Linked DNA regions of Homo sapiens. Changing the gene in region 1 together with any one later gene gives a genetic interaction. Each region holds a gene or a part of one and is shown on either strand. Other genes may lie near its edges.

Region 1 (7,853 bases):
AAAGAGCATGGAAGTGGGGCACTGTGTAGAGCAGACTTAGCTGTTATCTTGCCACCCTCCAGGCCTGTTAAGCGGGGCCACTTCTGTGCAGCAAGCGCCCTTAAGTCCTGGAGCCTTAGAAAGGTAGGGCTGACCGCCCCTGTCCACAGCCTGTCACCCCATTAATGTCAGAGACACTTCATGTAAGTCCTGGATTCCCCAGAGTCAGCTGTGGGGTCCGACAGACATGCCAGATGCCGTGAGCAGGGTGTGTGGTCCCTCCCCCAGCCATCATGTTAGCCCTACAGCCCATCGGCAGCCTCTCCATACAGAGTCACACCTGCAGATCAGACAAAGTTGAAAACACAGGGACAGCTGGGTGCGGTGGCTCACGCCTGTAATCCCAGCACTTTGGGAGGCCGAGGGGAGCAGGTCACAAGGTCAGGAGTTCGAGACCATCCTGGCCAACATAGAAGAAAGAAAACAGGAATTGCAGAGCCAGGGAATAGAGCTGGCAAGAGTGTTGGGTGCCAACTGGGCAGAGCCCCTCAGGGCAGCAGGGACTCAGGGGTGGGTGTCAGTACAGAGTCAGTGCCCCCAGCTGCCTCCTGACCCTTTTGTTCAGTGCTTGAGGCTGCCGTTTTAGGAGTCATAGAGTAAAGAGAAGCTATGGAAGGGCCTGGATAATCAGGACTGGGATGAGGCAGGGTCAGGGCTGGATTTGTCATGTGGCTCTGCAGGCTCCCCTTACCCAAGTCTAAGCATCGTCCCATCTCTCTGATCCTGTAATCAAAACCTGTCCCCAAGGTAGCTTAGGTGTGTCACAGCCACGAGGGAAAACGTTGGGTACAGCCCACCCTCTGTCCCCAGCAGTGGCTCCCCAAGGGAGGGGAGGCTGGGACACTTCTGATGCTGTTCCCTCCCATCTCCTGCCAGGGAACCCCAGACCTTGGCTCAGAGGTAAGTGACTGGCCTGTGGTGCAGAAGGGCTTGGTCCCCAGACGGGGTGGCGGAGCTCAGGTGCCACGGGCTTCTCTTTGTCCTGCTACCCACTTGGGAGTCCCTCCCTGGGCAGGCCATGTGTCCAGGTGGGAGAGTTGTGGGCCTGAAAGAGCAGGTCGCTAGCAGGTCGCCTTCTGGCGGCCTTGTTCTCCCTTGCATCTGCGGAGTTGCTGGCTAGTTTCTGCACCACTGCACTTTCCATCCTGAGCTCCCTCACCCTCTAATTTGAAAGAAACTCTGTACCACTGAGAATTTCAGAGTCATGTCCCGACTGGGGACTTGGTGGATGATTTGGGATTTGGTGGGCACTCCCTTAGTTGAAAACTGCATTTGAACAGTGTTGTTGTCTGTCTCTCCTCTTCCCCCACTTCCTGCTGTTCCCAGTGTGGCGAGAAAGGACACTACGCCAACAGATGCACCAAAGGGCACTTGGCCTTTCTCAGTGGACAGTGACAGCAGCTGGAGCCAGCTCCGAGCAGCCCGGGGGCCCCGCTGTTGGGAGTGTGCATTTAACTGTTTCATGCGCTTGTTGGCGCGACTGTGGCTCGAGCTGGCCCGCAGACACGTGGGTTTCATCACTCTGAGGGGCCACGTCTGTTAGTTTCCTATCATTTTGCCTTAGTATTTTTTGAAAAAGGGACATGTGTCCTGTGGGTCCCTGCAGTCGACATCATGTTTGGCTGGGCATCGATGCCTCCTTTCTGGGACTCCCGGCACAACTCCCCTCATCCAGGGAGGGAGGCAGCTGCTGGGGAGGGGCTTGGCTAGGTAGTTCTGTGTGGCGGTGGTCATTCCCCTCATTAAACACCAGTTCTTGGTGACGCCAGGGGCTGGTAGGTCATTCAAAGCTGTGGCCAGCTCACGCCTGCTTCCTCCCTCCCTGCCCTGCTGAATCCTAAAGCTGTGCCTATATCTGTGATTTGAATGAGGGAGCCCTTTGGGGCAAATTCAGGTGCCCCCATTGCCTCAGGCTGGCCCTGGTCCCAGGTGGCAGCGGTTGAGGAGGGGTACAGGGCTCTCAAGCCTGAGGTTTTCTTCTCTGGGCTTAATTTTCTCTTGGGGTACGTGCCTGACAGTGTTTAAGGTGTCCGTTGAACTGGAGTTGCAGACTTTTAAATAGATGACCCCTTCAGATCATCTGTGCCTACCTCCTGCCCATCAGGCGTCTACACTGTCACTCAGACACCTGTGGCATGTGGAGGAGACTGCCCTGTCCTGAGCCTGGAAAATGTGAAACTGTCTCCTGCAACCTGCTGGGCATGTGGGCCTGGCTGTGTTCAATTGCAAGAACAATTTTTATGAAATGGATTAAAGCTTGTTTTTTAAGCCATGTCTCATTAATTAAGGGTCTCATGCCAACCCTTTTACACTGGCTGCAATCACGGCGTAGCTTTCTTGTCCCTTTCAACAAATGTCAGCCTCACAAAGGGAAGTGCAGCTGCCCAGAAGGCCTGCAAGCAGCTGGTCAAGTCTGGGAGTCTGATCTGTGGAGCCAGCAGGCAGGTCCTCCACCTCAGCTCAGATGTCTGGTGGCACCTATTTCTGGGGCACAGTATCCCACCCCCAATGAGGCTCTGATGAAGAGGAAGCAGGGAGGGGCCGCCATAGCCCCTCACTTTTCCCCATCACCCCCAACCCACTAAGCCTCCTGTTAGAGAAGCCGCCTCAGCCGGAGGGCCACAATCCCTGCAGCCTGGGCGTGAGTGCTGCCTGAGGTCTCTCCAGACAGTGCCGGGTCACCTCACCCTGTAGCCCTTGATGCCCCAGGGTGATGCAGAAACACAGGATGCGGGCCATCCCTGCCTGGAGCCACAGGACAGCCGGGGTGGGATCTGGCGCTCTCAGGTACGCAAGCCTTTGTGTTACACCATAAAGGGCCAGCCAACTAAAGGCCAGAATGTCTGCAAATGCACCTGCCCACAGCACTCATGGCAAGGGACGGACTTCGGCACTGCTGCTTCGGGAAGGTCTGGATGACACCCTGCCCTCCAGGGAGCTGGGACACGACCAGAGTGGTGGTCTGGGAAGTCCACAAAGGCCTTCACCGGTCAACGGCCTGGAAAGACGACCTCCCCCCACCTTGTGCCACAGGAGCCCCTGGAACATGGGATAATGGCTACGGCAGACAGGCAGGCAATCAGCACACGTACCAGTCATGTTTTATTTGGAGGTTAATTCCTATTAGGATATGAAAGGATTCAGCAACGATTGAGATTGTGTTCCTCACGGAGGGGCTCGGGCCAAGGTCGTGGGGTGGGGGGGTGCAGAGTGTGTCCTCTTCAGTGGTATTTGCGGAGCCGCTCGTGCTCTGAAGTCAGGAAGGCAAGATGGTAAGTATCTTAAAAGGTTACAGTGAAGGCACAGCATGGCAGGAAGCAGGCTGAGATCACACAAAGCCTTCCTGAGAATTCCCTTCAGAGATGACCCATGACCCGCCTGCCGGTGTCTCTGCAGAATCAGCAGACCCGGGGGGCACAAAGACACCTCAGGAGCCAACCTGCCACCTGGCCAACCACTTTCTTTCCAGAAGGAACAGAGGGAACACACGCTCAGACAAACAGCCCCAGAGAACCCGTCCTTCAGAGGCAGGACCGCCCTGGTGCCACAGAATGGGAGTGAGGTGGGGGTAGGGGGTGTACACTACACTGTCAGAAACAGCCTAGTCAGAGGCTGCCACCGACACCTCCCGCCAATCTCCCACCAGACAAGCTCCTCTCAAGCCTCAGAGCCGGAACAGCCATGCTTTTCTGGGGTACCAGATTATCCCACTCAACTCATTTCTCTTTCTGCATTGGCTACTAGGAAAATCGAGCCAAATTTTCACAGTGTGCTGTATTTTAAAGAATGCTTCTAAGTACTCTCTTTACCCTGGCTTCATCTTGATTTTCCTGTGTTCTCTTTGTCACAATTTTCTCATTTCAAACAATATCCCACATACTGTACTCTGATAGGTCCCTCCAATTCTTTTAGGTGGAAACATAAGGAACTTTAACTAAAGGTCCCTCAGCCTCAGAAGAAGGTGGGCTGCTGTATCTAATGAAATCAGTCACCACCACCCTCTCATGGGAACTAAAGGCAAGACGCCGCAGAGGCACTCACTGAGATGCTTGTAGGAAAAGGAGTAGCTAAAGAGCACGTAGCATGCCAGCACCATGGTAATCCCCGAGATGCTCCCCTTCTTCACATTGATGTACTTGTTGTAGTACCGGTAGTAACCTGCAAACGCAAGAGGCGCTCACTGCCCTGCTGGGCTTCACATTTGAGTGAAGTTGAGCACACAGTTGAGTCTGGCTGACATTCAGGGACCTAGTCCTGCTCTGGCTGTTTAAGCCCCTCGCCCTGCATTCACTGGCTGATAAAGATGACAAGCACAAATGCCAGTAAGGTCTCTCATCCCCATAGCCTGAACTATAAGCACATACCAGCTCCTGAACTAGGCCTACCTGGATTCCACCTCTCCCCTTTGGCTGTGAGCTTATAGCCTCCTGAGTAGCTGGGACTACAGGCATGCACCACCACAGCCAGCTAATTTTTCTTGTGTGGTTTTTTTTATAGAGATGGGGTCTCTCCATATTGCCTAGGCTGGTCTAAACTCGGCTCAAGCAATCCTCCAGCCTTGGCCTCCCGAAGTGCCGGGATTACAGGCATAAGCCACCACACCAGGCCAAGATAGGCCATTTCAAATATTTGTCCTGAAGTTCTGGCAGGGAGGAGAGCATCATATTATAGACTAATGCCCACTACGGTTCCAATTCATTTTCCTCTTAAAGAAGTCTTAGGATTTCTCTAAGACAGAGGCAGACATACTGATTCCAAGCAACAGGAAACATGTTCTTGGCTGTAATATCTCAGAGCCAGCCTTTGAAAGGGCCAATCAACCACAGAAGTCCAAGGCCTAGCATCCCTCCCTGTCATCCTCTACATAACTTACTGCTTTCAGACAACAAGGCCTTCATTGCCCAAATTAATTCATGGCAAAAAAGAGATCTGAAGACCCAGAGATTTGCTTTCATTTACAGACATCCACAAGGCTCTGACCTCTTTGAAACGCTCCGAAAATGCCACTAGGACTGAAGTCCCGCATCAAGATCCAGCTTGGCAGCTCCCCCAGTTTGACCTCCAGAAGTTTCTTGTCCTTCACTGGTACTGAAACGGAAGAGTGAGAAAAAATACCCACTGAATAATCTCCCAGTAACACATATGGCATCCTTTCCTGCCACTGCTTCAACTATGCAATAAAGGTGCATAATGCAATTACACAGAGGCTGCACATACACAATATTATGAAGAAATATGTCACATCAAGCCCACTATTTTAAGACTGAGTCTATACAATAGCAGAACTGCTGCAGGGACAGCTTTATTAACCAACAGGACGTCTGAGTAACAGCTTGCTGGGAGTAACTCCAGAAAAGGGTCTCGAAAAAAGCAGTAACGTGGCGGACAGGAAAGATTACTGCAAAGCTAACATTTACTTGACATTATTAGCTTATTTAATCTTCACAACAAGCACTTCATGTCTTTACCTTAAAGGAGGGGAGGGGGGATAGACTCAGAGAGGTTGGGCCACGTGACCAAAGTCACACACACAACGTGGGGTCAGGACTGGCCCTCCTATGTCCCTGAAGCCAATATGAGGGTGCCCTGTCCAACCCTGGGGATGTGTCGCTGGAGAACGTACAAGAGGGGATGTGGAAGGAGAGCGGTGTGACGGTGCCAAGTGTCTCACTCAGACTTGACGCACTTGTTTACTGGGGAAGGGCTTCAAACAGCACCTGGGTTCACACAGCTGGCAGACTCACCAGATGGGCCAGCCCGAGCAAGTATAATGAAAGAAACCCAAGGAATTTCCACCTCCAGCATCCTGGGACCACGGACACCAACAATTTCCAGAGATAAAAATAAGAGATAACACATTCCGAGAAGTCAAGTGACGAAAAACCACTCCAAATGACTGAACGGCCCCAGATCGTATTCCAATGGGAGTCTGAGAACAAGGAATCAGAAGGGCTCCTGGCTGAGGCTGTACTGTCCTCACATTTGGGCCCAGGAGGAGACTATGGAGGGCCAGGGAGTGGGTGGGCCTGTGGGCGTCAAGGAGATGCATTTAAGAAAGGAATCGTCTCCCCTGTTCTCCCTGCAAAGATTTATTTATTTATTTCTGAGAGACAGGGTCTCACTCCATTACCCAGGCTGGAGTGCACTGGTTATTCACAGGTGTGGTCACAGCTCACTGCAGCCTCACTGAGCCTCCTGGACTCAAGTGATCCTCCTGCCTCAACCTCCTGAACAGCTGGGACTACAGGTGTGTGCCACCACACCCAGCTAATGATAAGTTTTAAAAAGCTTTTAGCAGATGTCCTATTGAGGGCAAAGAGTCTAGGACCACGGTGCCTTCTCAAAGATAACCACAAGAGGAGCCAGATTAAATAATCCCAAGGTTTCTTCTCCATTTTGAGATCAAAGGAAAGACTAAGGCTCTGTCAGGACCAGCCTCAAGAGTCTGCTGAGGGAGGCCAGGGCACAGTAGTTCACACTATAATCCCAGCACTTTGGGAGGTCGAGGCAGGCAGATCACTTGAGGTCAGGAGTTTGAGACCAGCCTGGCCAACATGGTGAAACTGCACCATGAGATCACGCCACTGCACCTGCCCAGGCTGGAGTGCAGTGGCATGATCTCGGCTCACTGCAACCTCCACCTCCTGGTTCTAGCGATTCTCCTGCCTCAGCCTCCTGAGTAGCTGGGACTACAGGCATGCGCCACGACACCCAGCTAATTTTTGTATTTTTAGTAGAGACAGGGTTTCACCATGTTGGCCAGGCTGGTCTCGAACTCCTGACCTCAGGCGATCTGCCCACCTCGGCCCCCCAAAGTGCTGGGATTACAGGCATGAGCCACCGCACCAGGCCAGAAAACTCACTTCCTGATCCAGTGAAGCCATTTTTTCACATTCACATAAACTATGCAGACATATTCTGCATCTCATTACCATGTTCAGGGGCTGGCATGGAGCCTGGCACATCACAGGAGAAAAAAGGCAACAATTTACAACTTGTTTTTCTTCCTAGTTCTATCTCTGTATTATGAAGACAAGGGTGTTTCCTTAAAACCAACACATCAGGGGCCGGGCACGGTGGCTCACGCCTGTAATCCCAGCACTTTGGGAAGCTGAGGCGGGAAGATCCTGAGGTCAGGAAATCGAGACCATCCTGGCTAACATGGTGAAACCCCATCACTACTAAAAAAAAAAAAAAAAAAAAAAAAAAAAAATTAGCCAGGTGTGGTGGCGGGCGCCTGTAGTCCTAGCTACTAGGGAGGCTGAGGCAGGAGAATGGCGTGAACCTGGGAGGCGGAGCTTGCAGTGAGCTGAGATTGTGCCACTACACTCCAGCCTGGGTGACAGAGCAAGAATCCGTGTCAAAAACAAACAAAAACCTAACACATTTGGCAGGGCACGGTGGCTCACGCCTGTAATCCCAGCACTGTGGGAGGCCAAGGCAGGCAGATCACGAGGTCAGGAGTTCAAGACCAGCCTGGCCAACATAGTGAAACCTCATCTCTACTAAAAATACAAAAATTAGCTGGGCATGGTGGCGTGTGCCTGTAGTCCCCGCTACTCGGGAGGCTGAGACAGGAGAATCGCTTAAACCTGGGAGGTAGAGGTTGCAGTGAGCCAAGATCGTGCCACTGCAAGGGACTATCCAGTTCATCCAAGATGCATCTATACTTATTCCACGAATTTCTCTTTCACTGGAAGGCAAAGGAAGGCCTCAGTCCTTGGTTGCCCTATTGGAACTCCCACCCCAACTCTACACACACCCGCTCCTCTGCAGCACTGAAGCTTCCATCTGCAATCACTGGGTCACATAAA
Region 2 (8,616 bases), on another chromosome or scaffold:
AATTATCCAAAATTATATTAAGACGTGATGCCCATCAAAACCTAGTAAAAATTATTCCCATGTTTAGAACATGTTCCTAGTTACCACAGGCAGGTTTCATGATCATTAATGAATACAGATGGGTGTGTAATCTGGGAACAGTATCCAAAGTGCATCTGAAACCACTCTTAGCACTTAGTAGAAACTTAGTAAATATTTGTTGAATATTTATTCATTTGAAGTGTAAAAGGAGACCCACCTAGTATATTAAAAATGCCTGGGCCGGGCGCGGTGGCTCACGCCTGTAATCCCAGCACTTTGGAATGCCAAGGCGGGCGGATCACGAGGTCAGGAGATCGAGGCCATCCTGGCTAACATGGGGAAACCCTGTCTCTACTAAAAATACAAAAAATTAGCCAGGCGTGGTGGCGGGCGCCTGTAGTCTTAGCTACTCAGGAGGCTGAGGCAGGAGAGTGGCGTGAACCCGGGAGGCGGAGCTTGCAGTGAGCAGAGATAGCCACTGCACTCCAGCCTGGGTGACAGAGCGAGACTCTGTCTCAAAAAAAAATAAATAAAAATAAAATAAAATAAAAATGCCTGTGTTGGCCTGGCATAGTGGTTCACGCCTGTAATCCCAACACTTTAGGAGGCCAAGGCTGGTAGATAGCTTGAGCCTAGGAGTTCAAGACCAGCCTGGGCAATGTGGTAAAACCCCATCTCTACAAAAAATACAAAAAGTAGCCAGGCATGGTGGTGTGAGCCTATAGTCCAAGCTACTTGGGAGGCTGAGGTGGGAGAATCACCTGAGTCTGGGAAGTTGAAGCTGCAGTGAGCCGTGATCATGCCTCTGCACTTCAGCCTGGGCGATGGGAGTGAGACCTTGTCTCAAAAAGAAAAAAAAAATTGTGTTATTTTGGGACATCTCTTTCTTTCCTTCTACTGTGCATGGATATCCCTATTGCTTCCATTTTTAGTAAAACAAATCTTTATGCTTTAAAGAACGTGGTGTTAAAAAGTGTGAGAAAGAAGCTGTGAAAAGTGGGAAAGCTTAGGCAAGGTGATATTATTTATCTGTGGCCTAAAGGTATGTAAAAAGGTCTATCTTATTTTATTATTATTATTATTTTTGAGACAGAATCTTGCTCTCTCGCCCAAGCTGGAGTGCAGTGGCAATTTCGGCTCACTGCAACCTCCACCTGCCAGGTTCAAGAGATTTTCATGCCTCAGCCTCCCGAGTAGCTGACACTATAGGTACGCACCACCACGCCCCCCTACTTTTTATATTTTTAGTAGAGACGGGGTTTCAGCATGTTGGCGAGGCTAGTCTCGAACTCCTGACCTCAGGTGATCCACCTGCCTTGGCCCCCCAAAGTGCTGGGATTACAGGCATAAGTGACTGTACCGGGCCTTATTATTTTTTTCAGATGGAGTCTTGCTCCGTTGCTGAGGCTGGAGGGCAGTGGCACCATCTTGGCTCACCTCTGCCTCCCAGGTTCAAGCAATTCTTCCACCTTAGCCTCCTCGCCCAGCTAATTTTTGTATTTTTAGTAGAGATGGGGTTTCACATGTTGACCAGGTCGGTCTCAAACTCCTGACCACAAGTGATCCGCCCGCCTCGGCCTCCCAAAGTGCTGAGATTACAGGTGTGAGCCACTGCACCCGGCCAAAAGACGTCTGGCTGTGTCAGAGAATCAAGAGTTGGTAACATCCAGGGAAGGCATTCAAGGCCTGAAGAGACAGCATTTGTGAAAGTGTAGAATAGCATTTCTAAACCTTGTTCTGTGAAACGCTGTTATACATTGATATGTTTAGTATTCCTACAGAAAACAATATTTATGGATGGAATAAGTTTGGGATATATTGTTACTAGATTCCTCCCTCTTGGAGAGTCATAATACACAAAGTACATAATTTAAAAGCTTTGGGAAGTCCTGTGATGAAACAGCAAGAAGAAAACCTCTTTAACTTGGTTGAATCTGGTGTTTCCTAGACTTTTTAAAAAAACTTAAAAATTTTAAATTGTGGTAAAATATACATGGTATAAATGATAAGTAAAATTTACCATTTTAACCATTTTTAAATGTGTAGTTCATTGGCATTACATACATTCATATTATGGTGCAACCGTCACCACTGTCCATTTCCATAACTTTTCCATCTTCCCAAACTGAAATGTACCCGTTAAATACTTTTTCCCCATTACTACCTTCCTCCAGCTCCTAGCAACTGCTGTTAGACTTTCTGTCAGTTTGACTGCTTTAGGTACCTCATAAATGGAATCATACGGTACTTGTCCTTTTGCGACTGGCTTATTTCACTTAGCGTAATGTTCTCAGGGCTCATCAATGTTGTAATGTGTCAGAATTTCCTGTGTTTGAAGGCTGAACAATATTCCATCGTTATATACCACATTTTGTTCACCCTCTACCATGTATTGTTAATCGCTACTTAGTATTGTGTTGTTTGTATGTGTCATGGCATATGTGTACTATTGTAGGTTCCTTTTAGATTTCCAGTATTACAAATTACTCTGAGATAAATATTTTACACAATTATCTCCTTAGAACAAATCCTAGAAGTAGGATTGCCCAGATAGTATTCATGTTTTATATTTTGGTAAATATTACCAAATTACCGTCTAAAAAGTCCCAGTTTTCATTCCTTCATATTGTGCATGAGAGTGCCCATTTCTCTGAACCCTTGCCAGAGTTAGATTTTTAAAAATCTTTTTGATCTGTGCACAACTGATCAGAGAGTACAATTTGTTTTTATCCGTGATATGTATGTCCTTGTCTTGGAAATCAAACATAGCTTCAAATGATAATTTGCTGCTCTTTGGGAGATTTTTTAAAATATTCTTTTGGGTTTTGAAAAGTAGTCTTGTTAGAATAAGTTGAATAGTGTTCCAAGGGGACAATTTTGAAGGGCACGTTGAAGAGATGCTCTTGTATTACGAAAAAAAGACAATCCTTTATTTATAATCACACACTTACACCTGGCACATTCATATATGACTTATCTCTACAACAAAATTGAATAGTCCTTGGAAGTTAGACAGCAACATTTATTGAACTCCTGCCATGTATAACAGCCTTTGTTGCCAGAAGGAATATGGTGTTATGAACCCTGTCCTTGTGGAACTTATAGTCTAAGTCTTTAAGTACATGTAATTGGAGGTAAAAAGTGACATACACAATAATATGTTTTCTGGGGCAGTCCTGTGGGAGTTCCATATCAGAGCTGGTAGGGAATAAATATTTTTTGAATGAATCATACAGATTCCTTAATGTATGAAGTCATAGTGTCCTAATAGAGAAGATATCTGCTGCTGTTGAGGCATTTGTTCTGGGAGGATAAAGCTGGGAAGTTGGTATGTGCCTTCAGAAGTGTTTGCCCATTCCTCTTATCTTCAGAAGTGATCTATTTCCCTAGAATAGATTTTATTGAGGGCACTTCAGTATACTTTTGTCACTTTGCCTTTTGCCATTTGACTTTTTGGTGCTAGAACACCTATTAAATATCTGATCACTTCTCGGCCTTTTGGCTAAGATCAAGTGTATTAAATGTGTGACTTCTCATTAAAGCCCTTGTTTTTGCAAGGGAGAACTATTCAGTATGAATTTGAAAGCACCTGCCTCTCTACTGGTGACTAGCTGCCTTCCTTTCATGCCAGGAAGATGGCTTATTGTGATTGCTGTAGAAGGATGTTTGCAGCTCTGATCTGTGATACTATGCTTCCACAAATACTCTCATTTATAAATAAATGTGTGGTGTATACATTTTTTATGGTTATAGAGAAGTTTGTATTTTTACAAGTGAAATTTAAATGCTCATTGTTAATTTCATATTTTTTTCTGATCAATATCCTTAAAATGGTAGATTGACACTAATACTTCAGGGACCAGATATCTCAGAAATTTGATGCTTAAAGGAATCCCATGGTATTAGGAGATGTACTCGGTCTGTATTAGGGTATTAACTTTTTGATTCAGGGATACCTTACTCACCTTTGCATTTCCCATTAGCCTCAGAGTAAAATAAGTACTCAAGGAATATATTAAGAGGAAAAAAGTGAAGATTAATGTAATTTGCTTGATTAGAGATGCTCCTCAGTTAAATTTCTTTTTAATCTCAGTATCTTTATTTTAAGACCCACTTTAAGACACATCAGCAGAATGATGTGTTTCCAGACAACAATTTTTAAAACCTTAGTTAACTGTAAGGATTTATTAGCTAGATTTCCTCTCTATGTTCCATTTCTAGAAGAAACAGATTACAAGAAAATCTGGTGTTATAAGTCCTTCTGAAAGTAAGTATCTTCTAGGACTGTTCCTGGAAACATAGTCAATCCAGCTTTCATATTCCTTGTACTTCTCAACAATTTTGCAGGGGCAGGGAAGTCACTCAGATGACTTGCAGTGTCCTCTATCACAAAGGAAGCACAGACTTATTTTATGTGCCACGAACTTACTAAGACAGATGGGATATTGACATATTTTAGGACTACTTTAAGCAAGAATTGATCATTGAAATTATTGATTTTTTATCATTATTATTAATAGCTAACATTTATTTAATTACATGCCATGTATTTTTTTGAGCATTTTACCTGCATTATCTCCTGAAGCTTCCATTTTATAAATGAAGGAAAAAAAAAAGGGAGGCTCAAAAAGGTAAAGTATTTTGACTGAGATCTTATAGCTAACGAGTAATAGGGCCAGGGTTTGAACCCTTTCTGTCTCTAGGGCCTAGTACCTAACCGTTGTCCTGCAATATTTTCTTTGTTGAGTATTTTCACTTAACTGAGAGGGTGCTATCTTGTTACTAGAACAAATATTATTACAGTGTTTTTTGTATGTTTTGTTTTGTTTTGTTTTTAGAAGACAGGGTCTCACTATGTCACCCAGGCTGGAGTGCAATGGTGCAATCATAGCTCACTGCAGCCTTGAATGCTGGGGCTCAAGTGATCCCCCCACTTCAGCCTCATGAGTAGCTATGACTACAGGCATGTCCCACCATGCTCAGCTAATTAAAAAATAATAATTATTATATATATATATTTTTGTAGAGATAGAGTTTTGATTGTGTTGCCCATGTTGGTCTTGAACTCCTGGACTCAAGCAGTCCTCCTGCCTCGGCCCCCCAAAGGGTTGAGAGTACAGGTGTGAATCACTGTGCCCGGCCTCATTACAGTTTTAACAGGACTGAGGAAGCAGTTTTTATAATTAAGTTTCTAAAATAAGAAGTTGATTGTATAGTAGGTAATTTTGATTATAAATTTTATTTTAAAAACACAGGCCAGGCATGGTGGCTCACGCCTGTAATCACAGCACTTTGGGAGGCCAAGGCGGGCGGATCAACTGAGGTCGGGAGTTTGAGACCAGCCTGACCAACATGGAGAAACCCCATTTCTACTAAAAATACAAAATTAGCTGGGCATGGTGGCGCATCCCTGTAATCCCAGCTACGCGGGAGGCTGAGGCCGGAGAATCTTGAACCTGGGAGGTGGAGGTTGCAGTGAGCCAAGATCACGCCACTGCACTCCAGCCTGGGCAACAAGCGCGATACCCTGTCTCAGAAAAAACACAACAACAACAACAACAAAAACACAATACTATCTTGACAGGAAAATATATTCATTGAGCAACATTAATTTGGTGGTACATCATTTTTATAAAACCCCTAGTAACTCTGAAAGCATTGTCTGTGCCCTTTTAAACACTTCACAATCATATGACAGGAGGGGAAATGTAAACTGATGAAATAGAGTTTTGTACTTTAGCACATCATTTGAGGAAAATACAACTTGTTCCCCCATGACCTTATAAAGTAATGAGAAGATTGCATGATAGTGAAGGGAGAAAGAAAGGAAAATATATTGTTTTAACAGTAGTTATGTGCTTCGAGTGGCCTGACTTGTAAGGAGTTGCTGTGATTTGTTTTGCAAGAGTGCAAGCCTTCCTTTCTGATTCTATAGAGATCTCATTGACTAGAGCTGCAGCCCCTAGTGCTTATAAGGATTTCCTTTCAGCTTAGACTAAATCCTTTTAAGCTCCACAGAACAGGGATAAATGTTGATTTTCAAGGTGGCATTTTACTACACTGAATGTGTCTGAAAAATGATTCAGTCATTTTCTGCCTTATTCTTAAATATTTGCTGTGTACATCATGTTTCTAGGTAGGTGAGCTCGTGAAACAATATGAAGAGGAGAAAATAGCCTTTTAAGGAAATTGGCCCACAGAAAGGATGGCCTTCTTGGACAATCCAACTATCATTCTAGCTCATATTCGACAGTCACATGTGACCAGTGATGACACGGGAATGTGTGAGATGGTTCTCATTGATCATGATGTTGACCTAGAGAAGATTCATCCTCCTTCAATGCCTGGAGACAGTGGGTCAGAAATTCAGGGAAGCAATGGTGAGACTCAGGGCTATGTATATGCCCAGTCAGTCGATATTACCTCAAGTTGGGACTTTGGTATTAGAAGACGCTCAAACACAGGTAAACATTGTGTTCTAGTCATGTCTTCTGAGCTTTAAATCAGTAAACAGTCTTATGGAATAATGCATAATATTGGAATAGGCTTAATGGGGGATGTTTCCGGGTATTAATAGGAACATGCATATGTCAGACTAAGAGTGAGTCTGAGCAACATCTCCATCTCTGCGACTGCGAATGGAGAGGGCCTCTAGAATATTATTAGAAGTAGACAGAAGGGGGATAGTGAAAAAGTTGGTTAGGAGAGACATGTTGGACATTTCTAACAAGTCATTGTGTAGAAAGGCAAGTGGACTGGCTTTGAGTGTCTTCACACAGCAACATTAGTCCCAGTAGGTAGACTACCCGGAGACAGATTTCAGGTTGACATAATAAAGAGCATTTAATACAGAGAGGTGACCACCCAAAGAGAGCAGGCACTTCTTGCCCCTGGAGGAATTGTGGGGGAGTGGGGAAATGGGAGGAGACACCTGAGTATTTGTTAGGGCTGGTTTTAGTAGGATTCTATACATAGGGTGTGAGATTAGAAAAGGGGCCCCTGTTTTTGATACTTCGCCTTTATTTTCTTAAATTGATCACCTTTTGATTTTTCTGGCTTGAAAACACTCAACTTTGGTATACACGTATTTAGTCATTAGCTTTAAAAGCTTATTGCCCATTTTCCCACTTATATTTTTTTGGTGGCCTTGTTTCAAGGGGAATGTGATGAACCAAGGACTTTTTTTTTTACTTAGACAAATTATTTAGAATACATATTGTAGTTCTAATATGACAGGTATTCTAGGAGGTAATTTTTTTTAGATAATCAGAAAATATAATCTTCAAATTAGCAGTAACCTGCTAACTCCCAGGAAAGGTAATGGCAAGGAGATATAGTAGAACACTGAAAATACTTACATATTTATTTTCATGGTCCAAATGTAAAACACACATAAAGGAATATTGGAGGTAGAGCTGGATACAATTTACTGTGAAAGGCACATTCAAGTTTTGGTTCAGAATTCAGTATCTGTGACATAAGAATAATTTGCTCTCATGATGAAAATAATTAATAGCATTTCCCAGTATCTAAAGGAACTTTTGTCAAAATAGGATTTGAGTGAAGGTTTGAATATAATTTAGAACCATTGATTTTCAGTTCTCTAGTTGAAACTGACTTCCTTGCAGGTTATTGAGATGATATCTTATATGACAGGTTGAATGTATTTCAGTGGGAGAATGCTGCTAAATTGAGAGCTTTATGATTATATTACTTTGGCTGTACCCTTCACATTTATTAATTGCAATTGAATGTAGTTTTCTTCAGTGTTGGTTAGATATAGTGACATTGTCAGAATGCTCTTCCCAGCATAGTTTAAATTTCTGGTAAGATTATTTTCAGTGTTTCCCTACCACAATGCTAAGGCAGAAGTGTATAATTTCCTATCTTGAAAGAGGCGGAAAAAGAGATGTATTTATTTTCTATTAGCAAAATGCTGGGATAGGAAGCTGAAGATTAGCAAGAGAAAACTGATTTCAAGAGATGGCATCAATTGTGACTTTCTTTTTTATTGTGGTCTCTGTATGCGGCAGTTGTTAAGTGCATGCTGGGTGGTATTTCTCTAAAGGATCAGTTCACTGATTTTTGAAGGTTGATCAGCCAGTGGCAATATAATCACAAATGCATAATTTTAGGTGACTCTTGTTGGAATTTCTTTAGGTAGCACTTAGATGCTAATAATTAATTGAGATTGTAGGTTGTCTTAGTGACCAAAGAATTTACTTTTTAATCCATGCAGCATATCTTAAAATTTTGTAAAAGAAAAATTGTTCTTTTTAAGATTTGACTAATGTTACAAAGATACAAATCATTTATTTTACTACCTATAAACTGTTTCAGCCCACTGAAGAAAAGCTATGCTAATTTATATAGCTTTGACATTTTATAATTTTCATGATTTTTAGATAAAGGATTTTATATTTAAAACTTTAATAGTCTAGTCTGAGTTCATTTATCTTTAATTTTTGAAATGGGTAGAGTAATTCATAACAGTAATTTTATTCCTGTAATGTAATATTCACTTCAGTTCATTTGTGCATTAAAATTCCTTTAAGACCGTTATTAATGATTTATATAATGAAATGTCATATTAAT
Region 3 (8,616 bases), on another chromosome or scaffold:
ACAGCACCCTATATTTCTAGAATTTTCCACAGCCTGTAACTATCTTGTTTGTTTTCTTCTTTGTTTTCCTCATCAGAATGTATGCTACTGAGGGCAGGGACTATGCTTTTTCACCTGTTTTATCTCCAGTGCTGAACCTGTTAATTCACAAAGTAGGATAAATGAATGAGTATGTATTCCATTTTATTATTTATACTAATTTATGTTCTAATATCTTATGCAGGTTATTTTAATATTGTTTTCCCCTGCCTTCTTCAGTCTACCATTCATACTTTTATTTTATTTTATTTTATTTTATTTTATTTTTTTTTTGAGACGGAGTCTCGCTCTGTCGCCCAGGCTGGAGTGCAGTGGCGCAATCTCGGCTCACTGCAAGCTCCGCCTCCCGGGTTCACGCCATTCTCCTGCCTCAGCCTCCCAAGTAGCTGGGACTACAGGCGCCTGCCACTACGCCCGGCTAATTTTTTGTATTTTTAGTAGAGACGGGGTTTCACCGTTTTAGCCGGGATGGTCTCGATCTCCTGACCTCGTGATCCGCCCGCCTCGGCCTCCCAAAGTGCTGGGATTACAGGCGTGAGCCACCGTGCCCGGCCTCATACTTTTATTAAAACGTTTATTTAACGTGAACATTCAGATTTTAACTTCTTTCCTTAGATGTTTTCAGTGACTTTCCATTGAATTGAAGGACCAAAATGTTGTCCTTGTTTCTTGCATTTATGTTCAGGTTTATTTCCTTTCTTTCCAAGCTTTGTAGGAACTGTACATTCCAGCCCCTCAGACTACTTAGTTTTTTCTTTAATAAGTCATGCTAAAGGCCAGGTGTGGTGGCTCACGCCTGTAATCCCAGCACTTTGGGAGGCCAAGGCAGGCAGATCACACGAGGTCAGGAGATCAAGACCGTCCTGGCTAACATGGTGAAACCCTGTCTCTACTAAAAATACAAAAAATTAGTCGGGCGTGGTGGCGGGTGCCTGTAGTCCCAGCTACTCAGGAGGCTGAGGCAGGGGAATGGCATGAACCGGGGAGGCGGAGCTTGCAGTGAGCCGAGATTGCACCACTGCACTCCAGATTGGGCGACAGAGCGAGACTCCGTCTCAGAAAAAAAAAAAAAAAAAAAAAAGTCATGCTAAAGACAGACCTAGAGTCACATCCTTATTCAAAGCAGTAAGCATGACCTTGCTTTTGTTCATGAAGTTCTTTCTCTTTGAAATTGTTCTCTTTCATCATCACATATTGAATAAAAAATGTGACTTAATCGACTTACTCTGTTTTTTTAAAAATTCTCCATATAGTTTAACTTGAATCTGTATACTCCAGATGTATTCTGTTCTTCATTCATTTAACAAATATTTATTGATTGCCGACCACATGCCAGGTCTAGCCCTGCTACATGCTGGGGTATATTGCAGTAACCTATATAAGATATTATATAGGTGAGCAAGGTAGAACCCAGTCCCGACTCTCATGACCATTCTCAGTCATATATAGATGTAGATGAACCCAGAGATTAATCTCATCCTATGTTTAGCCTGATGTTTTAACACATTTGTTCCTTCCTGGCACATTGATAGTGGCCAAGACCAATTTTTCTTGTATTTTTGAACCCTTCCTTTCCTACCTTTAGACCTGTTTCATCACTTCCTCTGTATCTGTAATGTAGCAGTCCCTCCACAGGGCTTGTTTTCCAAAGAAAAGTAAGCCCTCCACAGGGCTTGTTTTCCAAAGAAAAGTATCATTTGGAGGAGCAAAGTTATAAGCCTACCTAAGCATGTCGTAAAGCTGTTCAAAAATAACTCAGAGCTAGTCTTGTGGATGGAAATGTAGTGCCTGAGTCACATTCTGCTTAAAGTTGTAACAAATACAGATGAGTTAAAAGAAAAAAAACAAAAATAAAGAAAGAATGGGTCTTCATTCTGTCAGGTGGTCTCATTGTTCCTAGACAAGATCAAGCTAATTCTTCCCGTTAAACTTTTCATGTTGAACCCACTTTGTTCCCTAGAACATTTGAATTTTACCTTTCTTATGTTCATTAGACCTTGCTATTCAAAGTATGATCCATGTCCAGTAAGATGAGCAATGTTGGCTACACTTGAGTTTGTTAGAAATGCAGACATACGTATCACAGAATCTCAGGCCCCTCTCCTGACCTACACAATCAGGTGATTTATAGCATTTTACTGTTTGAGAAGAAGCTTGCTCTCTTCCTTTCTCTGAGCTTTTTAATGACAGCTTGTATCATTCACCTTGGTATGTGATCCATACTGTTAGTGATTTACTGTTAATATATTTTCCCCTTCTCATTGAGATGATAACCCTTTTGAAGGCTGAAGTATAAAACATTTGTCTCCTCCATAATTCAGTGCTTGAAACCCATTGCTATTGAAATTTCTTACCTTTTAAATTTTGTTTTCCCCTTTAAGTTATCTTATTAGATACCTTATTCCCCTGGTTTTGTAAGTAAGGTAGAGTATGTTATTAATAAATAGAAAAGTATGAGTTACATATACAGTCAGCTCTCTATATCTTTGGATTCTGAATCCAGCAATCTCACATCCATGGATTCAACCAACCATGGATCGAAAATACTAGGAAAAAAACAACTAAAAATACAAATAAAAACCAATACAGTATAATAATTATTTACATAGCATTTACATTGTATTAAATGTTATATGCAATCTAGGGATGATATATAGGAAGATGTGCCTAGGTTATATGCAATAACTAATGCTACACCATTTTATATAAAGGACTTGAGCATCTGCGAATTTTGGTATCCAGTTTGGTCCTTGTTTCTGTCTGAAACTCTTTTTACTTGTTGCTTATTTCTTCACACTAGAATATCAGCTTCCTGAAAGTGGCACCCATGTCAGGTTTGTTCACTACAGTATTTCTAAGGGTCTAGAACAGTACCTCGTGTATAGAAGGCACTCAGATGTTGTGAATGAATGAATATACTCCTGTTGTGTGGAAATTTTCTTGAAAATCAATCATGAAGAAACTGGGTTAGTAAATGCTTGAGTGTTGGTGAGAAAAGAGCACACAGTTGAGGATAAGCTAGTTAGCTTTCTGGGCTTGTTCATATTTCTCCATCTTTTTATTTGTTGATTTCTTATCTGTTTGAAAAATCACTAATATTAATTGGACACCTATTATAAGACCCTGTACAGGGATGTTTGGTTAAATTTTGTGTTGTTTGGTTAAATTTTTTGTTAAATTTTAGATGTTGTGATCCTCACAACAGCTTTGGGGATAAATGTTATCACTACCTTACCTACCTGATGGTTATTCAAATCTAATGGAAAAATTTTGGTGGAAGTACTTTGTTTTTTATTTTGTTTTGTTTTGTTTTTGTTTTTTTTTTTGTTTTTGAGACAGAGTTTTGCTCTTGTTGCCCAGGCTGGAGTGCAATGGCATGATCTTGGCCCACTGCAACCTCTGCCTCCCAGGTTCAAGTGGATCTTGGCTCACTGCAACCTCCGCCTCCCAGGTTCAAGCGATTCTCGTGTCTCAGCCTCCCAAGTAGCTGGGATTACAGGCATGCGCCACCACGCCTGGCTAATTTTTTGTATTTATAGTAGAGACGGGGTTTCACCATGTTGGTCAGGATGGTCTCGAACTCCTGGTCTCAGGTGACCCACCCACCTTGGCCTCCCAAAATGTTGGGATTACAGGTGTGAGCCACCGCAGCAGGCTGGTGGGAATGCTTTGTGAGTTGAATCAAATACTTCGAATTTGTAATGCCAGGCTATCACATGTGTCACTGTAGATTTTTTGTGATACTCTTATGAATTTAAAGAGACTGGACAACAGCTTGTTTAAATTCCATTGAAATGGAAGCTCTTCTCTGAGATCCTGGTCTGAAGTATAATACAGTTTGGCCTTTTAATGTTTTAACAACAAAAAAAATTATATGACCCTTGGCCTCTTCTTCCAGTTTTCTGACTTGAGTGGTGCATACGTAAGTTGTTTGACATGTGAGATAATTTTTTCAGTCAGATAATTTGAAATCCTTTCAAGCACCAAAACTTGCACATTTTAGCTATTTTAATTATATGTGTTTCTGAAGTGTAATACATAATTTTCTGCTGCTTTAGTCAGAGAACATGGAACACAATCTAACCATGTTTTGATGGCATAGTATTATCATTAAGAACATGTTATTGGGCCGTGCTCCCGCCTGTAATCCCAGCACTTTGGCAGGCTGAGGTGGGCGGATCACCTGAGGTCAGGAGTTCGAGACCAACCTGGCCAACATGGCGAAACCCCATCTCTACTAAAAATACAAAAGAAATTAGCCGGGCATGATGGCGGATGCCTGTAATCCCAGTTACTCAGGAGGCTGAGGCAGGAGAACTGCTTGAACCTGGGAGGCAGAGGTTGCAGTGAGCCGAGATCACACCACTGCACTCCAACCTGGACGACAGGCAGAGACTCTGTCTCAAAAAAAACAAAAAAACAAAAAAACATGTTATTGAACCAGACAGGACAGTAGATCTGTCAAGAAATCCCTTCGGGTAGTCTGTTATTTCTATAATAAATGTCCCCTGTTGTTGAACTTTAGGTGCCTTGAGTGGTTTATGTTTCTAGTTGGTGCCTTTTTTGGTTGTTAAATTTATCTGTTTCTTATCCCCTTGCTTTTCAGGTTTTTTTTTGCTGTGAGTGAAAAACCAGTTATGCAGGATTATCTCTAACCTGAGTATTTGTGAGTGAGGATTAAATTCGTTATGCAGTCTGACATTTTGATTGCTTAGTTATATTTTTTGCTTAGGCAAGTAAGATGTTATTGCTTACAAATAGTAACTTTTTATAATAGAAAAATCATTTAGCGTACATTATTATATCTTGGTAGCTCCAGGAACTGGGCGGACTAGTATTATCTGGATTATACATGTGATTCTCCCACTCCAAGAAGCTGGGTGGCTTTTCAAAGACATAAAGTGAATATATCCTGGAGCTTGAATTCAGATCACATCTAGCCATCCTTGACTCATTTTCTTTTACATTTTATAGCAGCTTCATATACTTGAAGACCCCAGTAGTTATTCTGTGTTATGTGACAGGTACTGTTTTAAGTATTGTGTATTTATTATGGCATTGAAGCAATACAACAACTCTTTGATATAGGAACCATCATTATCCCTATTTTATCAATGGGGAGACGTGGGTACAAATAGTTTATGTGATTTGATTAATGTACAGATGGAGGAAATAGAAGTTAAGGTGTGTACAGAATAGTTAATCTAGTGCTTCTTGTTTGAGCATTGGGAAATATGTTTTTCAGAACTCAGGTGTCTTACAGACTTCTAACTTTAAAATGTATGAGAAAACATACATTAGAATCTTTACGTTTGATAATCAGTCATATTGTAGAAGATTTGTAGCTATAAGAAGTCAATTTAGTAAATATTCTGAAGTTTGGAAAAATGCAACCTTAAACTGCTGAGTTCACATATTAAGATACTGGGGATCAATAGTAAAGAAAATCAGCATATTAAGGAGCATTGGGAAGAGTACTGGTACGTGTCCCTAAGTAAGTTAGTTTACCTGCATTGGGTGGTAATTCTAAGTCCATCTGACTTTTCCTTTTTTTTTTTTCCTTTGAGACAGAGTCTTGCTCTGTCGACCGGGCTGGGGTGCAGTGGCCCGATCTTGGCTCACTGTGATCTCCACCTCCTAGGTTCAAGCGATTCTCGTGCCCCTCAGCCTCCCGAGTAGCTGTGTGCCACCATGCCCTGCTAATTTTTGTATTTTTAGTAGAGACGGGGTGTTGCCATGTTGGCCAGACTGGTCTTGAACTCCCGGCCTCAAGCAATCCACCCGCCCCAGCCTCCCAAAGTGCTGAGATTATAGGGATGAGACACCACACTGGGCCAGACTTTTCCGTTTTTATGTTCCTCCCAAGATTTGGATAAACCTGCAAACATCCTGGGCCATTGGTCCTTTCTGTTAAGGTCAGACACCTTATTGAAATTCATTGCCATTTGCTTTTTGACAGTGCTTACTGTGTTCGTGACATATATGCTAGTGATGACAATCTATCATTTGTTTCTTGTAGCTGTCTTCTTGGGTATTATTTAAGGCAGCATATGCAGTACTTCTCATGGAGGAGATGACTTAATAAATCAGTTATGATCTCTAGGCCTTAGTTTGATATGAAGATAGTGAATGGCCTTCCTACTGTAATAAAGAGAACCTGAATGGGTAATTTCTTACATTGTTGATATGATTTTTAGTAGTAGATATTGATTTTAATAGTTGGTAATAGTTACTGTTGGATTCCAAACTGGATGGTTTCCCAAGTAAATGGAATATGATCAAAATATTTTAACTTTAGTTGTTACAGCAAATCTGGCCTGGATTTATATGGTTAATGCCTCACATATCTATTTAACATTAAAAGGTGTGGGTGTACAATAAGCATTTTTTATCTTTTGCCTTCTTGTCACCTTTTGCTTCAACTGGTTTCTGTATATGATAAATTTGGATCTTTTGTTCAATATCTTGGACTTCATTGGTTTGGCTGAGCAACTCCAGGTATTTTAAGTCTTGGCAGCAATGCTCTGGACTTGCAGCTCAGTCCTAGCCCATACCTTGGAGAAAAAAGCCTCTACAAAGCATGAAGTTTGAAAAGAATCTTTGCAAGTTCTTATTTTTGTGTTTAGATTTTCTTTTACTTCATCAAGTCTACCATAGGTCGTTTCTTAGATAAAAGCTCCTAATTTTAGCACTTACAGAAAACTTAGTTGCATTTGCTTTCTTTTCAAAATTAGTTTATAATGTTTTTCGTAAAATATTTAATTTACGGTACTTGGATGTTATTTTATTTGGCAAGGTTTTAGATAATATCTTAAAGAGAATATGGCTTCGTTTTTTGTAAACTACTACTGGTAGGTAGATCATTCTTTAAAATGGCTATATGCAGTAAAGATTAGGTTTAATAGCAAAGTGTAGTGTAATTTACTTAGCTGTTTGATGACAAACTGTACTTGTTTCATCAAAACTGAAAGGGCTGAAGTGGATGCTTAAATATGCTGGAGTAATATGCCATATTCTTGTTAATGTTGGTACCATGCTCAAGCATATAAGAGAAAAATTGGATTCAGGAAAAACAGTGATAACTCAGTATTAACTTAGTCAAAATATATATATTTTTAATCCTTTGAGTCTTTGACCCTTTAAACATCAGCTGCATTTTGGCATAAAATTTTAAGATTTTCTTTGCCTCCAAAATAGTACCTAAAGTGGTACTTAAGTGCCACAGATGTTTATTGTATCTTGAGGCTTACTGTTTGTTTTTTTTTTTTTTAATACTTTCTATGTTTCCACCTCTCCCTGTCGCCATCTGATTTTATTTCCTGTCCATTAGTGATAACCACTGTCTACCCAAGTCATGAAGGCTTCTGGTATCGTCTTTGACTATTTCTTGAGGTTTTTCCTAAGATCACTTACTTAGTTCTTTGAATTTATAACTACATTGTCTGTACTGTTCAGTTCTTGCACTCTTTCTCAACTATCACCAAAGCCTGTATAACTGGTCTTACAGACTTTATTTTGTACTTGGACAGTGCTGCTGACTAAGTTATCTTCTCAATGGACAGCTGTAGTCCTAAAACTCAACCCTTTGGAAAATCACTATTACACACAAAATAAAATCAAACTTTATTTCCCAACTTATTTATATATGTGTGTGTGTGTGTGTGTGTGTGTGTGTGTGTGTGTGTTTATATATATATATATATATATATATATATGTATGTATTTTTGAGACAGGGTATCGCTCTGTCGCCCAGGCTGGAGTGCAGTGGTGCGATCTCGGCTCGCTGCAGCCTCCACCTCTGGGGCTCAAGTGATCCTCCCACCTTAGCCTCCCTAGTAGCTGGGACCATAATGGGTGCATGTTACCACACCTAGCTAATTTTTGTTTTTGTTTTGTATTTTTAGTAGAGATGGGGTTTCGCCATGTTGACCAGGCTAGTCTTGAACTCCTGGCCTCAAGTGATCCGCCTGCCTCAGCCTCCCAAAGTACTGGGATTATAGGCATGAGCCACTGTGCCTGGCCTATTATTTTTTGAGACAGGATCTTGCTCTGTTGCCCAGGCTGGAGTGTAGTGGTGCAGTCATGGCTCACCACAGCTTCCCACTCCTGGGCTTGAGTGATCCTCCTCCTCAGCCTTCTAGTAGCTGGGACTATAGGTGTGTGCAACCTTGCCTGGCTAATTTTTTTATTTTTCTTTTGTAGAGATGGGGCCTCTATATTGACCAGGCTGGTTTTGAACTCCTGGCCTTAAGGTGATCCCCCTGCCTTGGCCTCCCAAAGCGCTAGTATTACAGGTGTGAGCCACCACCACCTGGCCTTGCCTGCCAGCTTTTGTTTTCATCCTCCAAACGAGGGCTTGTAGATGGTGTTTTCAAGTGTGGTTTACTGGTAGCCTTTAAAACAAAATAAAAAGTATTTCCTTTTGGAGAGAAGAAAACTCCCATTTTACATTTTACACAGAAATGCATCAGCTTTGGTTTCATTCTAAAGGACCTCTTGACTAGAAAGATGATGAATAACCACCTTGTGGACTTACTGTGGTGCGCTTTTTATACAGGAAAATGGGAACCCTTTTA
Region 4 (3,744 bases), on another chromosome or scaffold:
AAATGCTCTCCTTTGCAAAATAGCAGATGCTGCCTTCCATTAAGTTTTTCTTTGGAAATTTAAAGATACAAAGACAGGAAGTTTTGTCTTTCCCAGATGGTGCTTATGGTGCTTTCATACCTTTTTTTTTTTTAAGTCAGATTGAGTAACTGCTCATACATTTAGAGACTTGTCTTGCAAATTAATCAGTGTTGCAGGCAAGAATTGTTAAATTATTTTTCTCTAAGGCTTTTTGAGAAAGAAAATACAAAGAAAGAAGTGAAAAGCAATTGGGTGGGATTGCAAGGGCTGATGGATTTACAGATTTTCTTACCTGTATAAGAAAAATTTTATGAATTTTGTGGAGTTTGTGAGTTCTAGAATGGTTTTAGAGATATACATTTTGATTATTTTAAAGCATCAACTCAAAACTAGGAGGCTGGGCACAATAGCCCATGCCTGTAATCTCAGCATTTTGGGGGCTGAGGTGGGGGGATTGCTTGAGACCAGCCTGAGTAACGTAGTGAGACCCCATCTCTACAAAAAAAAAAAAAAAAAAAAATTAGCTGAGCATGGTGGTGGGTGCCTGTAGTCCCAGCTACTTGGGAGGCTCAGGTAGGAGGATTGTTTAAGCCCAGGAGGTCAAGACTGCAGTGAGCTCTGATTGTGCCACTGTACTCTAGCCTCAGTGACAGAGTGAGACTATCTTAAAAAAATTTTTTTAAAGTCTCAAACTAGGTTAAAAAGGATTACCCTGAAAAAGGTCTTGGTATATTATACATCTTTTCAATAAATAGATTAGGATGATTTGTGATTTGCCGTATCAGTGTTTACTGGCTACTTTTAAAACAGCCTTTTGGAGAGAGGGTTGGATGTAGTGTTACCTACACACACATGCCCACCCCTATTCCTCATGATAAAAAAGGTAGTCATTGTCCTTAAGGATGGTAGAAACAGGAAAATGTTCCCATCTATGTTTAAATGTTCTGATACTACGGCTTACCATTACATCTGGCTCAAATAAGGATAAACTATGTTTTCGTTCCTATAACAATTATTAATGCTTTCCTATAGAAAGCAATAAAGATTCTTAGACCTAAGTGTTTGGTAAAGATTGTCTTTAATAAAATTCTCTATTTCTCAATGGGCAAAAACTGCCCACTGTCACCTTTGGATTTTAGGATCCCAAACTCTCCTCTGAGCTCCGTTGTACCTTCCAGCAGAGCCTTATCTATTGGCTCCACCCTGCTTTGTCTTGGCTACCACTGTTCCCTCGTATTGGAGCTGATAGAAAAATGGCTGGAAAGACAAGTCCTTGGTCAAATGATGCAACCCTGCAGCATGTTTTAATGAGTGACTGGTAAGATTAGTAAGAGAAACTTGTATAATTCAATAGTGAATTTTATTTTAGCAGCATTCTCTATCATATTTGTGACTGGATACGTTAATGGCAGAAGGGTATCTAGATCCTTGTGAATTTTATCTGAACCTATTAATAACCAACATATAAACTGTTTACTTTTTTTTTTTTTAGCTGTTACTCATTCTTTACCCAATTGTGGTAGAATGTATATAAGTGTTGGTTAAATATATACAGACAGGCAGGCCGGGTGTGGTGGCTCACGCCTGTAATCCCAGCACTTTGGGAGGCCGAGGCAGGCGGATCACAAGGTCAGGAGATTGAGACCATCCTGGCTAACACGGTGAAACCCTGTCTCTACTAAAAATACAAAAAAAATTAGCCTGGTGTGGTGGCGGGTGCCTATAGTCACAGCTACTCGGGAGGCTGAGGCAGGAGAATGGCATGAACCTGGGAGGCAGAGCTTGCAGTGAGCCGAGATCGCGCCACTGCACTCCAGCCTGGGCGACAGAGCGAAACTCCGTCTCAAAAAAAAAAAAAAAGTATATATATATATATATATATATATATATATAAACACGCAGCCCTAATTCTTTAATGCTACTTCTTGTCAGTCTCTGCTTCCTTTTTTAGCAGCAGCTCAGAGAAAGTCAGCAGGCAATTCTCAATTAAGTTTTGTTTAAAGAAAAAATAAGTGTTTAAGTGGTATACACTATTTGTTAAAGTATTGAGAAGTCATCAGCGAGTCCTCATAACCAATTTCAGTCCTTTAAAGCTAAGTCATACGTAACCACAAAAATTAAAACCATTATCTAAAATATTTGTGTTGTGTTTTAAACCAGGTATCAAACTGAATTATTCAGAATTATAAACATTGCATTAAATGTTTAATAATACCTTAAGAAAATTTTTTTACTTCATAGGTCTGTGAGCTTTACTTCTCTATATAATTTGCTGAAGACAAAACTTTGCCCCTATTTCTACGTTTGTACCTATCAGTTTACTGTCCTGTTCCGAGCAGCAGGATTAGCTGGAAGTGACTTAATCACAGCTCTCATATCTCCAACAACTCGAGGTTTAAGAGAAGCTATGAGAAATGAAGGTAAAAGTTTAGGTTTAAAGTGAGAATACTATACTATATAGTAAACCTATTTTGGCCTAAAAGCTATTTAAATTTAAAATGCCTTTTACCAGTTGATTAGCAACATTAAGAAATATATTATTTCTTTATTTCTGGCTTTTTTTCCCTCCCCCACAATTATTTAATCCAGCAGTCCGCAAACTTTTTGGCACTAGGGATCAGTTTCATGGGCAGTGAGGAGGATGGTTTCGGGATGAAACTGTTACACATCAGATGATCATTCTTTTTTTTTTTTTTTTTTTTTTTTTGAGATGGAGACTCGCTCTGTCACCCAGGCTAGAATGCAGTGGTGCAATCTCGGCTCACTGCAAGCTCCGCCTCCTGGGTTCAGGCCATTCTCCTGCCTCAGCCTCCCGAGTAGCTGGGACTACAGGTGCCTGCAACCATGCCCGGCTAATTTTTTGTATTTTTAGTAGAGACGGGGTTTCACCGTGTTAGCCAGGACGATCTCGATCTCCTGACCTCGTGATCCGCCCGCCTCGGCCTCCCAAAGTGCTGGGCTTACAGGCGTGAGCCACCGCGCCCGGACAAGATCATCATTCTTATAAGGAGGGCACAACCTAGATGCCTCACATGCACAGTTCACAGTAGGATTCGTGCCCCTGTGAGAATCTAATGCGACCACTGATGTGACAGGAGATGGAGCTCAGGCAGTAATGTTCACTCGACAGTCGCTCACCTCCTGCTGTGCAGCCCGGTTTCTAACAGGCCACAGGCCAGTACCAGTCCACAGTCCAGGGGTTGGGGACTCCTGATTTAAACTGTTCCTTCCACATAGTGTTCTCTGATCTCTAAAATAAAACACATATTGGGCCAGATAGTCACTATCTGAATATACTCTTCTAGAAATTCTTCTATAGTACCAATTACCCCTTTAATAACAAAATTTTCAAACTGAGTAAACCCATTAGTGGATCATGAAATCTACTTAATGGGCCCAATCAGTACTTTTTCAAAAAGTGAACTGGAATACAATATGATTTATGAAAGAGTGTTACATGTATGTGTTGTTTCCCGAACCTCTTTCAAGGAGAATACGTTTTATGCATGTTTGTAGGTTTGTGAAGAAAGCTTGAAAACTCTACTGCCTTAATAGATCATTTGTAAAAACTAACATTTCAAATTTTTTACACTCTAAAAGTACAGCATGCCTGTTAAATACTTTAAATGACAACTCAGTTACATTTTTGTTCCTCATATAGGTATTGAATTTTCTCTGCCTTTAATAAAAGAAAGTGGCCATAAGAAGGAGACAGCATCTGGA

The links.
Region 2: changes in ATP5MF (region 1) and MAPKAP1 together harm fitness more than expected from each alone (negative genetic interaction), as found in Homo sapiens cells (one large-scale study listed by BioGRID).
Region 3: changes in ATP5MF (region 1) and EIF3H together harm fitness more than expected from each alone (negative genetic interaction), as found in Homo sapiens cells (one large-scale study listed by BioGRID).
Region 4: changes in ATP5MF (region 1) and DONSON together harm fitness less than expected from each alone (positive genetic interaction), as found in Homo sapiens cells (one large-scale study listed by BioGRID).

What each region holds. Positions count from the first base shown.
Region 1 is NC_000007.14:99,455,067-99,462,919, forward strand, and holds the end of ATP5MF (ATP synthase F(0) complex subunit f, mitochondrial), read right to left. Parts: intron 5,128-7,853; coding exon 5,020-5,127; intron 4,198-5,019; coding exon 4,081-4,197; intron 3,290-4,080; coding exon 3,261-3,289; 3' UTR 3,129-3,260; downstream 1-3,128. Other genes in the region: ATP5MF-PTCD1 (ATP5J2-PTCD1 fusion protein), read right to left, coding at 5,020-5,127; CPSF4 (cleavage and polyadenylation specificity factor subunit 4), read left to right, coding at 1,366-1,434. UniProt on the Homo sapiens protein: Subunit f, of the mitochondrial membrane ATP synthase complex (F(1)F(0) ATP synthase or Complex V) that produces ATP from ADP in the presence of a proton gradient across the membrane which is generated by electron transport complexes of the respiratory chain.
Region 2 is NC_000009.12:125,670,185-125,678,800, reverse strand, and holds part of MAPKAP1 (target of rapamycin complex 2 subunit MAPKAP1), read left to right. Parts: intron 1-3,503; exon of another isoform or gene 3,504-3,647; intron 3,648-6,157; 5' UTR 6,158-6,226; coding exon 6,227-6,485; intron 6,486-8,616. UniProt on the Homo sapiens protein: Component of the mechanistic target of rapamycin complex 2 (mTORC2), which transduces signals from growth factors to pathways involved in proliferation, cytoskeletal organization, lipogenesis and anabolic output.
Region 3 is NC_000008.11:116,742,908-116,751,523, reverse strand, and holds part of EIF3H (eukaryotic translation initiation factor 3 subunit H), read left to right. Parts: intron 1-4,397; exon of another isoform or gene 4,398-8,616.
Region 4 is NC_000021.9:33,582,185-33,585,928, reverse strand, and holds part of DONSON (protein downstream neighbor of Son), read left to right. Parts: intron 1-1,160; coding exon 1,161-1,339; intron 1,340-2,262; coding exon 2,263-2,441; intron 2,442-3,682; coding exon 3,683-3,744. UniProt on the Homo sapiens protein: Replisome component that maintains genome stability by protecting stalled or damaged replication forks.